Regions from separate parts of the Homo sapiens genome. Here all the other regions are linked to region 2. Evidence: fine-mapped expression QTL. A gene starts in region 2. Each other region holds a variant in brackets. All regions are shown on one strand. Distances are from middle to middle. Region 1 overlaps RBM25 (RNA binding motif protein 25). Region 2 holds the start of PAPLN-AS1 (PAPLN antisense RNA 1). Region 3 overlaps HEATR4 (HEAT repeat containing 4). Region 4 overlaps RBM25 (RNA binding motif protein 25).

The links. PIP is the estimated chance that this variant, and not a neighbour inherited with it, causes the effect. A credible set is the group of variants that fine-mapping cannot tell apart.
Region 1: its variant is the best candidate, but not a certain one, in a credible set for the expression of PAPLN-AS1 in esophagus muscle (GTEx, PIP 0.80).
Region 3: its variant is the best candidate, but not a certain one, in a credible set for the expression of PAPLN-AS1 in testis (GTEx, PIP 0.58).
Region 4: its variant is the best candidate, but not a certain one, in a credible set for the expression of PAPLN-AS1 in esophagus muscle (GTEx, PIP 0.55).

Annotation. Positions count from the first base shown.
Region 1 is chr14:73,123,649-73,126,239 of GRCh38, forward strand. RBM25 (RNA binding motif protein 25) reads left to right here. Exons shown (of 19, transcript NM_021239.3): 19 at 1-251. Among named protein-coding and RNA genes, the nearest start is that of PSEN1, 12 kb to the right of the region's middle. RefSeq lists an enhancer at 1,505-2,044. The variant G/C (reference allele first, on the strand shown) is at 1,606.
Region 2 is chr14:73,244,939-73,247,529 of GRCh38, forward strand. It overlaps PAPLN-AS1 (PAPLN antisense RNA 1), which reads right to left and starts at 1,063. Exons shown (of 2, transcript NR_135248.1): 1 at 586-1,063; 2 at 1-306. It overlaps PAPLN (papilin, proteoglycan like sulfated glycoprotein), which reads left to right. Exons shown (of 27, transcript NM_001365906.3): 4 at 698-758; 5 at 1,135-1,237. It also overlaps the pseudogene RNU6-419P. RefSeq lists a silencer at 898-1,167 and enhancers at 2,115-2,184, 2,323-2,591.
Region 3 is chr14:73,496,208-73,498,798 of GRCh38, forward strand. HEATR4 (HEAT repeat containing 4) reads right to left here. Exons shown (of 18, transcript NM_001220484.1): 14 at 1,948-2,137; 15 at 394-472. It also overlaps a transcript of ACOT1 not described here. Among named protein-coding and RNA genes, the nearest start is that of RIOX1, 6.6 kb to the left of the region's middle. The variant G/A (reference allele first, on the strand shown) is at 1,153.
Region 4 is chr14:73,118,238-73,120,828 of GRCh38, forward strand. It overlaps RBM25 (RNA binding motif protein 25), which reads left to right. Exons shown (of 19, transcript NM_021239.3): 19 at 1,476-2,591. The coding sequence ends at 1,568. Among named protein-coding and RNA genes, the nearest start is that of PSEN1, 17 kb to the right of the region's middle. The variant G/A (reference allele first, on the strand shown) is at 1,195.

The DNA of each region.
Region 1 (2,591 bases), 120 kb before region 2:
GTGAACTTACACTTTTTGATAAACTGATAGATTTTTTGTAATGTGATTATGGTAAAATACTGAAATATTTATGTTAATTTATTTGCATTTGAATGCTTACATTTTTAATTGACAGAATCTTTGCATTTCATTACTTGAGTCATGAAGGCGAAATTAAAGAATGGCAGTCTAAAATACCCAGGTAAAGAAGATAATTTCTAGAAACAAAAATAAAAATTCTTTTCAAGCCATGTTGTTTGAATTAAATGACACTCCTGAGTCTGTCTACTTTTTTTTTTTTTTTTGAGACAGCATCTTGAACCCAGGAGGTGGAGGTTGCAGAGAGCCGAGATTGCGCCACTGCACTCCAGCGTGAGCAACAAGAGCAAAACTCCATCTCAAAAAAATACATGTATTTCTGTTAGCTGATCATCTAATGGTGGCAAAAAAAATTACACGAGTTCAGGAACATCATTAGACATAAATACAAAATACTATGTGAATTATCAAATGTGATAAGCTGAGAGGAAATGGGAAATAGGAAGATTCTCAGTAGAAGTAGTAATATGTGGAAGGGGCTTTAGAGGTCACCTAGTCTGTTTTGCCCATTGTAATTATGTCAGTAGTCCCTGCAGGTGGTTTATCTAGAGGAGTATATATGGGGTTCTAATTCATGGTCTAGCATTGCACTATTAAATAACCACTAATGACAAGTAGTTTTACATGCATTCACGTGAAATCTTTCTGTTTGTTTGTTTGAGATAGGGTCTGCCTCTGTCACCCACGCTGGAGTGCAGTGGCAAGATCTTGGCTCACTGCAACTTCTGCCTCCTGGGCTCAAGTGATCCTCCCACCTCAGCCTCCCAAGTACTTGGGACCACAGGTGCACACCAACACACCCAGCTAATTTTTGTAGAGGAAGGGTTTCACCATGTTTCCCTGGTGGGCTTTGAACACCTGAGCTCAAACGATGCCTTGACCTCTCAAAGTGCTGGGATTACAAGTGTCAGCCACTGCACCTGGCCGACATTTTTTATTTGTTTAGAGACAAGGATTCCCTGTAAAGCTGCAGGGGCACAATCGTGGCTCTCACTGCAGCCTCGAATTCCTGGGCTCAGTGATCCTCTTGTCCCAGCCACCTGAGTAGCTAGGACTACAGGTGCACCCCACCATGCCTCCTATTTTTTGTGTTTGTGTGGAGATGAAGTGTGTTGTCTAGGCTGGTCTCAAGTGATCCTTCAGCCTCAGCCTCCTAAACTGCTGAGATTACAGGCATAAGCTTTTTTGATAAAGGAAAAACTAGTGAGCATTTCACATTGTAGAATCCAAAAACATGAAAGTTAATCTTTTCCTGTCAATTTACAGTTTTGTAAATGTACCCAGGTGAAGAGACTGGTCTGTTACTGTAGATAGAAAAGTACCAAAACAAAGTTTTACTTTGTTCAGTATACTGTCGAGGCAACTTTCTAAATGAGAGGGTCCAGGTTCTTGGTTAAAGAAGGAACTTAGAATTAACAAAATAGTGACAAACATTTGCGGCAGCGCGCCTCAGGGCACCAGCTGCAGGGGTCTGCCCACAGACCCTGACCCTGCGACAGATGAATAAAGTACACTGACACACAGATA[G/C]TCTGTTTTGCCAGTCCAGCTGAGGGTGTCCCACTGCTTACAGACTCCCTGGAGAGTTCTGAAAACAGTTGCAACTAGGCCTCAGTCAGCTAGTGAGACTTGCATTTATTCAAAAAGATTAAGGATGGCTTGAGTCAACACCATTAGAGGGTAATTGATATTGTGGACTTCCCAAGTAAAAAGCACTTAACCCCCCGTGGTACATCCAAGATTAGTCTTAAGATCATATGACTAAACAAACTAGGTAAACTACTCTGCCTTCCTTTATTACTACTTTAATTTGTTTAAAAGTAAAGATCAGGTTGCCTTCAACCATATCTATCACCGAAGCTATGCAAACTTCTCGGCCTTCCAAGAATTGTATCTGTCTCTGTAACAATCTTTAATGTTTTTCCCACCAGCCTGATTGAATCCCAACACATATTCAGAACTTAAGGCTAGAACAAGATGAGGAAGATATGACAGCCCGTGATTTTAAGCAATCTAAGGAAACCCATGCTTGCAAAGAATTCAAATGACGTGAGAGCTACTAAGATAAAATGTGGCCATGCACCAAGCCTTGACGGCAATATTTAATCTCATAACAATTCTTCTTTCCTCCTATATAAGAAGCATGGCAGCGACACTGTGCATAAATTAAGGCAAACTGTTGTTATGTGAAAATGTTAATGAGGTAGATTCCTTTGGAATCATTAGTGTGAAGAGCTGGTTTTTGTTTTCCCATTGCCTAGGCCCTGACTTTAGTAGTGACTGATGCAGCTTTTCTAGTCTAACAACCCTCTCCCCCAAGTAATTCTTTGATGCCCTGCCCTTCAGCTTCATCTTTTACCACTTACTATTGGGTTTTGCCACCATTTATTTTATCATTCACTTATCTGTTCCTCTTCCTAAGTTACAAACGTTTCTGAAGCAAAAGAAAATGTATCACTGTAGAGAGTCTAGGACCTTTAGTGTTATTTGGTCGTTTACTTTTCATACACTGCAGC
Region 2 (2,591 bases):
GGGCCTTCCACTCTGAGCTGGAGCACGCGTGCTGCCTGTTGCCCCTGGTCTCCAGCTCCTGATGCTGCACCGGCCTGCAGTATGGCAGGTGCAGTCAATTTTGCTGGAACTGGTAAATAATCTTCAACCGGCAGTTCCCAATTCCTGTGGTTTCTTTACCGAGTACAGATGTTCCCCACTTCAAGCGATTTATTAAATGCTTGCTGTGTGTGCTGCACTCCGGCAGGGTCAGTGGAGAAGGTGGGGCACAGAAGGAGTAGTGAGGTGCCTCTGTCCCGGTTTGTATAGGGGTTGTTCCTGAGAACCCTATGTGAGGAGGAATGAGAGACCAGGAATGATCCTAAGAGCCTTATACTGATGTCCTGCTTAGATCGCAGGATGGCTGTGCCAAGCGGGTGGGTATTATATCTCATGCACCTCGGGTCTTCTCTGGGAATCTGCCTAAGATGCAGTGGAGTGGTCCCGCCTTAAATCCAAACTATAGGGTGGGTAGGGCTCTGAGTCCCGCTTCTCTGGAGTACCAACATGGGTCGCTCACTCCCACCTGGGGGATTTACGGGGTGGGGTCGGGGGACACCCTCTCACCTTGCTGCTCCCACTGGAGAGTCCCGCAGAAGTTGGGGCCTGCAGAGAGCCCCAGAACGGGGGCAGGGACGTTGGGTCTCGGTCAGGTCTTCCCGGTGCTCTGGTCCCGCAGGAGAGATGGAGGCTCCAGCTGCGTGGGCCCCGCCCGGAGCCACCGCTCTTGTCGCACGGAGGTAAAGCTCACGGGGCGCGGGCGAAGGCACCAGCTTCCCCAGCCCCTCCTGGCCGATTTCCCCATTGGGATGCCCGCTCCTGGCCGCGGGCTGCTGGGTTGGCCCAGCCTGGGGTCCTCCCGCCAATCCACAGCAGGGCTGCGTGGGGGCCCCTTCCTCACCCTGCTCCCGGGGACTGGCCTTGCCCTCCACAGCCTAGAGCACCATGGAGGGGCACGCACAGGAGTTCGGGGGTCCGGGGGGCGGACTCCACCTCCGGCGGCTCCGATGGGGCAGGCAAGGGAGACTCCTGGGCTCCCTGGGCTCGGGCGGGGCGGGAGGTGGGCGGACCTCGGACTCCGCCCTCCTGGATCCCGACTTCCCCTCCGCCCCGCAGAGCTGCCCCGACGGCGCCCGGGACTTCCGGGCCGAGCAGTGCGCGGAGTTCGACGGAGCGGAGTTCCAGGGGCGGCGGTATCGGTGGCTGCCCTACTACAGCGGTGAGCGCGGCCGGGACTCGCTCTCTCGGGGCCTCTTGTATACCTACGTTGATGCCACAGTTCCTATTGCCGTATTATAGAGGCGTTGTCATATATATATATATTAGAGACAGTCTCACTGTGTTGCCCAGGCTGGTCTTGAACTCCTGGGCTCAAGGGATCCGCCGGCAGCGACCTCCCAGAGTGCTGGGATTGCAGGCGTGAGCCACTGTACCCGACCAATTTTTTTTTTTTTTTTTTTTTTTTTTTTTGGGTGGGCGCGGGGGCTCGCAATGTACAGGAAATCTTGTAGACCACAGGACCCACCTTTGGGGAGGAGAGGGTCTGCAGAGGTCCCTCGAGAGAGAGCAAGAGGTCTCTCTTTTTCTTTATCTTTTTTTCTTTTCTTTCTCTCTCGTTCTCTCTCGCTTGCTCTTTTTTCTCTCTTCCTTTCCTTTCCTTTTTTTCTTTTCCTTTTTCTTTCTTTCTTTTTTTTTTTTTTTTGAGACAGGATCTTGCCCAGGCTTGAGTGCAGCAGTGTCATGTCAGCTGGGCAGCATGTACCTCCCAAGCTCAATCAATCCTTCCACCTCAGCCTCCCAAATAATTTTTAAAGTAAATATGGAATGCTTCATGAATTTGCATGCCATACCAGCTAAGGGGGCAGGGGCTGTGCTAATCTCTGTATCGTTCCAATTTTAGTATATGTGCTGCCAGAGCCAGCATTTGTCAAATACCCCATCGATCAACCCATAATGAATCAATCACCAGTACCCCTGCTCCCCCCAGCACATGCCCGTGGCAACACCATGGCAGCCATTTTGAGGTCTTTCCATCCTTTCTCCCCTTATGTATGTATATTTTCAAACGAAGCTATGGTGTGTCTATACCATTTTGAGCCCTGTTTTTGCTCAGTCTGCTATGGGAAGCGTTCCTCCCGTCGCACAGAGACGGAGATGGGGAACCCCGGGAGCGGTAGCAATGGTGCCCCACGGTCATCCTGCAGGAGGGGCTGGAAGGGGCTTGGTACACCAAGACTTCATTTATCAAGGATCTGGGGGCCAGAGGAGATGGTCTGTGCACCTCTGAGGAGGGTATAAGTCATTAATTTTTAGAGAAATACAGTTCAGGGAAAAAACACCCAGGTAAGCACCAACATGTATGTCATTAAGCATTTTAGATGAATCAGAAGATTCCTCAAGACAAGTCTTCTGAGTGTTCGTTTTCCCTGCTTGCGGCAAATGACCTCTGGAGACCCTGTGGCACTCTAGATTCCAGATCAAGGAGCACTTATATTCTCTCTGTGTGTGTGTGGTGGGGATCGTGGCTGTGGGCATGGCCCAGTGGGAGTCTCATATCCTGTGTATGTGTGTGT
Region 3 (2,591 bases), 250 kb after region 2:
TCAGAAAAATTAAGAAGAAAATCTAGGGGGCCAGCTCTAGTCCCTTATTCCTTCTCTATGCCTATTTGAAAAAAAGGAAAAATAAACAACTTGGGTTTGGGGTTGATGGGGAGAAAATAGGAAGGGAGGGAAATAGTATTTCTGAAACAATGAGGGTTACTTGATAGGACTAATAGGATTTTTGTTTTGTTTTTGTCTTTACTAGTAGGACCTTGTAACCCAATCTTGCACAGATGCTTTGCATCTTCAAATGATGTGGCATCTGTGTCTGGGGTTTTAGAAAGTACTTCTATGGTGGGAAAAAGGGTATGTACATGTTTGAGGAGGACAGGGTCTGAGGAACTCTTGAGAGTCCTGAATTTTCTCTTGAGAACAGAGCTTGCACTTATTTACCCTGTTCTTGATCTCCTGAAGCATTTCTTGGTTTCCTTCATTTCCTAAGTTGAGTATCTTCATTGTCTGGTACATTTCTCTGAAAGATAAGAAGGGCTTCTTAGATTATTCTACCCTGCCCTTTAAAAAAGTATGGGGGTAGAAAATATAGGACTTGGAATCAGGTAAGAATCCCAAGTTCCAATCCTAACTGTGCAGTTTTGCTGAGCCTTATATGCAAAAATGGTATAATGCTTAGCTTACAGGAATAATGTGCAGTTTTTGAGACAATATATTTGTGGGTTTTTTGTTTACTTTTTGTTTTTGCGAGATGGAGTCTTGCTCTGTTTCCCAGAGCTGGAGTGCAATGGCACGATCTCGTCTCGGCTCACTGCAACCTCCACCTCCCAGGTTCAAGCGATTCTCCTGCCTCAGCCTCCTGAGTTGCTGGGACTACAGGCGCGTGCCATCATGCCCAGCTAGTTTTTGTATTTTTAGTAGAGATGGGGTTTCACCATGTTGGCCAGGCTGGTCTAGAACTCCTGACCTCAGGTGATCCACCCGCCTTGGCCTCCCAAAGTGTTGGGGCTACAGGTGTGAGCCACTGCACCCGGCCATGCCCGTCTAATTTTTGTATTTTTAGTAGAGACAGGTTTCACCATGTTGGCCAGGCTGGTCTAGAACTCCTGACCTCAGGTGATCCATCTGCCTCAGCCTCCCAAAGTGTTGGGATTACAGATGTGAGCCACCTCATCTGGCCAAGACAATATATTTGAAGGT[G/A]CCAATAGGTACCATTTACTGAACACCTTTATGACAGGCGCTAAACATGTCATCTCATTAATTATCACCACAACCCTATAATGTAGACTATCACCTGCATTTGATACATGAAAAAAATGGGCTCACAGAGTTTAAATACCTTACACGGGCTCACATAGCTATTGCATGCCAGAGCTGGAATTCAAACCCTGGTCTTTTTGACTCTAAAACTTGTTGTCCCAATAGGCATTTGATAAATGTTAGTTGAATATATGAATAACTTAAAACCCATCCTTTTTTTTTTTGAGACGGAGTTTTGCTCTTGTTGCCCAGGCTGGAGTGCAATGGCACCATCTCGGCTCACCGCAACCTCCACTTCCCAGGTTCAAGTGATTCTCCTGCCTCAGCCTCCCTAGTAGCTGGGATTACAGGCATGTGCCACCATGCCTGGCTAATTTTGTATTTTTAGTAGAGACAGGGTTTCTCCATTTTGGTCAGGCTGGTCTCAAACTCCCGACCTCAGGTGATCCTCCTGCCTCAGCCTCCCAAAGTGCTGGGATTACAGGCGTGAGTCATCACACCCGGCCAAAACCCATCCTGGTGGGGAGAAAAGATGCATGAACTACATAAGCTTGACTTTCAATCTAATTTAGGCCAGTTTTTCAGTTACCTACTTGGGTGAGTGGTGAATGTGCAGGTGAACCAGTGCTTTTACTGCCATTAGGTAGCCTGGAAAGGCAGGGACATATTCAATGAGCAAAGATGTGAGAGTTGGCAGTATAAGGTCATGGTGGGAGCCAGAGGTTTAGTGCTTACTTTAGAACAGCATCGTGGTTCTCCAGGAGCAGCACGTCTAGGAAGGTGTCCCTGACCCGGTCCCCTTGAAGTTTCAGGGCTAGGATGCTACGGCAAGCTTCCAGCCGTACACCTGGTGACTCTTCATAGTGGATAGCCCAGAGCAGAAGATCCGTCAGCTCGGGACTTACTTGCCCAATCTGTCCCAAAGCTGCAGAGATTAGAGGGCAGCATGTCACTGAAGACTGAGCTTACTATATTCTAGCATCCAGAAATAAATTGAGTTTTGCAAACAATACCTTCCCTTTTGGATGGTAATCACCATTAGAATTTTAGGGATAGGTCAGAATGGGACATTACCTCCAAAGGATTCCTAGAAGAGGGATGTTCCATCCCATCCTTGCCTGTTAGGATATTTGCCTATTTTGGGATGAAATATAGAACAAATAACATGGAAGACCTGCCTAGTCCCAGCAGGGTGATGGGGAAAGGAGGCACAATTATTTATCTATGTCAAAAAGAGAAGCAATGCCAAAGATTCTAAAAAGAAACTAGGCAGATTAAGGGGCAGGGTTTTAGGTCTGTAGCAGTCTTGAAACTGATCTGACTTTTGCAGAGCGTAATAGTTGAGATCTCCAAGGAAAGCAAGATGCATCCAGCACTGG
Region 4 (2,591 bases), 130 kb before region 2:
GGCCAAGGTGCGCAGATTGCTTGAGCCCAGGAGTTTGAGACCAGCCTGGGCAACATAGTGAGACCCTGTCTCTACTAAAAAGCACAAAAATGTAGCCAGGAGTAGTGGTGCACACCTGTAGTCCTAGCTACTGGTGAGGCTGATGTGGGAGTATCACTTGAGCCTGGGAGGTCAAGGCTGTAGTGCACCATGATCATGCCACTGTACTCCAGGCTGGGTGACAAGAGAGATCCTGTCTCCAGAAAAAAAAAAAAAAAGTTTGTGAGGTTGTGTTTTTGGAGATAAATGAAATTCTGTATTGTTATTATGTAATTGTATATTATTTAGTTCTTCTTAAATTACTGTGTTCTTTATGAAAAGCGTATGGTTTCCTTGGGAAGTAGTTTTGTCAGACATGTATAATTGCAGTATCTGTAAAGGTAAAATAAAAGAATAAAAGGTGGATCACAAAAATATGGTACTCTTTGTGTTTAGTAAGCCATGGAATTTTGAATGATTTTTTTTTGTTGTCGTTGTTAATTTACATTTACTATTTATTTATTTATTTAGAGACGGAGTTTTGCTCTTGTTGACCAGGCTGGAGTGCAGTGGCATGATCTTGGCTCACTGCAACCTCCGCCTCCCAGGTTCAAGCGATTCTCCTACCTCAGCCTCCCGAGTAGCTGGGATTACAGGTGCCGGCCACCATGCCCAGCTAATTTTTGTATTTTTAGTAGAGATGGGGTTTCGTCATGTTGGCCAGGCTGGTCTTGAACTCTTGACCTCTGGTGATCCACCTGCCTCAGCCTCCCAAAGTGCTGGGATTATAGGTGTGAGCCACTGTGCCCGGTCCATTTACTATTTATTAATAATACATTTCTCACACTGGACAAATTTTCTTTAAGTCATTTTACTGAAAGCAAAACTACTTCCTAAGGAAAACAAATACGTATTATAAAGAACGTAGTAATTTAAGAAGAACTAAATATACAACTATGTAATAACAATACAGAATCTCATGTATCCCCTCAAAACAACCTTAAAACTTTTTTGTTTTTTTTGTTTTTCTTTTTTGAGATGGAGTCTTGCTCTGTTGCTCAGGCTGGAGTGCAGTGGCGCGATCTTGGCAAGCTCCGCCTCCTGGGTTCACGTCATTCTCCTGCCTCAGCCTCCCCAGCAGCTGGGAATACAGGCGCACGCTGCCATGCCCAGCTA[G/A]TTTTTTGTATTTTTAGTAGAGATGGGGTTTCACCATGTTAGTCAGGATGGTCTTGATCTCCTGACCTTGTGATCCGCTCGCTTCGGCCTCCCAAAATGCTGGGATTACAGGCGTGAGCCACCACACCCGGCCACTAAAACAACCTTAAAATCTTAACTAGCATTTAAGTAATAAGTGCTTATTGTCAGTGGATGAAAAACTTTTTTATACTGGCCACTGTTTTTGGCAGATGTTGATGATTGCTTCTCTTACATGTGTTGCTGTTTTGTTTCCTCTTTAGGTACTTGATGAAGAAGCAGAAGTTTTTATAGTCAAAATGTGGAGATTATTGATATATGAAACAGAAGCCAAGAAAATTGGTCTTGTGAAGTAAAACTTTTTATATTTAGAGTTCCATTTCAGATTTCTTCTTTGCCACCCTTTTAAGGACTTTGAATTTTTCTTTGTCTTTGAAGACATTGTGAGATCTGTAATTTTTTTTTTTTGTAGAAAATGTGAATTTTTTGGTCCTCTAATTTGTTGTTGCCCTGTGTACTCCCTTGGTTGTAAAGTCATCTGAATCCTTGGTTCTCTTTATACTCACCAGGTACAAATTACTGGTATGTTTTATAAGCCGCAGCTACTGTACACAGCCTATCTGATATAATCTTGTTCTGCTGATTTGTTTCTTGTAAATATTAAAACGACTCCCCAATTATTTTGCAGAATTGCACTTAATATTGAAATGTACTGTATAGGAACCAACATGAACAATTTTAATTGAAAACACCAGTCATAAACTATTACCACCCCCACTCTCTTTTGATCAGAAATGGCAAGCCCTTGTGAAGGCATGGAGTTTAAAATTGGAATGCAAAAATTAGCAGACAATCCATTCCTACTGTATTTCTGTATGAATGTGTTTGTGAATGTATGTGTAAAAGTCTTTCTTTTCCCTAATTTGCTTTGGTGGGGTCCTTAAAACATTTCCCAACTAAAGAATAGAATTGTAAAGGAAAAGTGGTACTGTTCCAACCTGAAATGTCTGTTATAATTAGGTTATTAGTTTCCCAGAGCATGGTGTTCTCGTGTCGTGAGCAATGTGGTTTGCTAACTGGATGGGGTTTTCTTATTAATAAGATGGCTGCTTCAGCTTCTCTTTTAAAGGAATGTGGATCATAGTGATTTTTCCTTTTAATTTTATTGCTCAGAAATGAGGCATATCCTAAAAATCCTGGAGAGCTGTATTTAATGCATTTTTGCACTAATTGGTCCTTAGTTTAATTCTATTGTATCTGTTTATTTAACAAAAAATTCATCATACCAAAAAGTGTAAGTGAAAACCCCCTTTAAAACAAAACAAAAAAATGAAATAAAATTAGGCAAATTGACAGACAGTGAGAGTTTTACAAACATG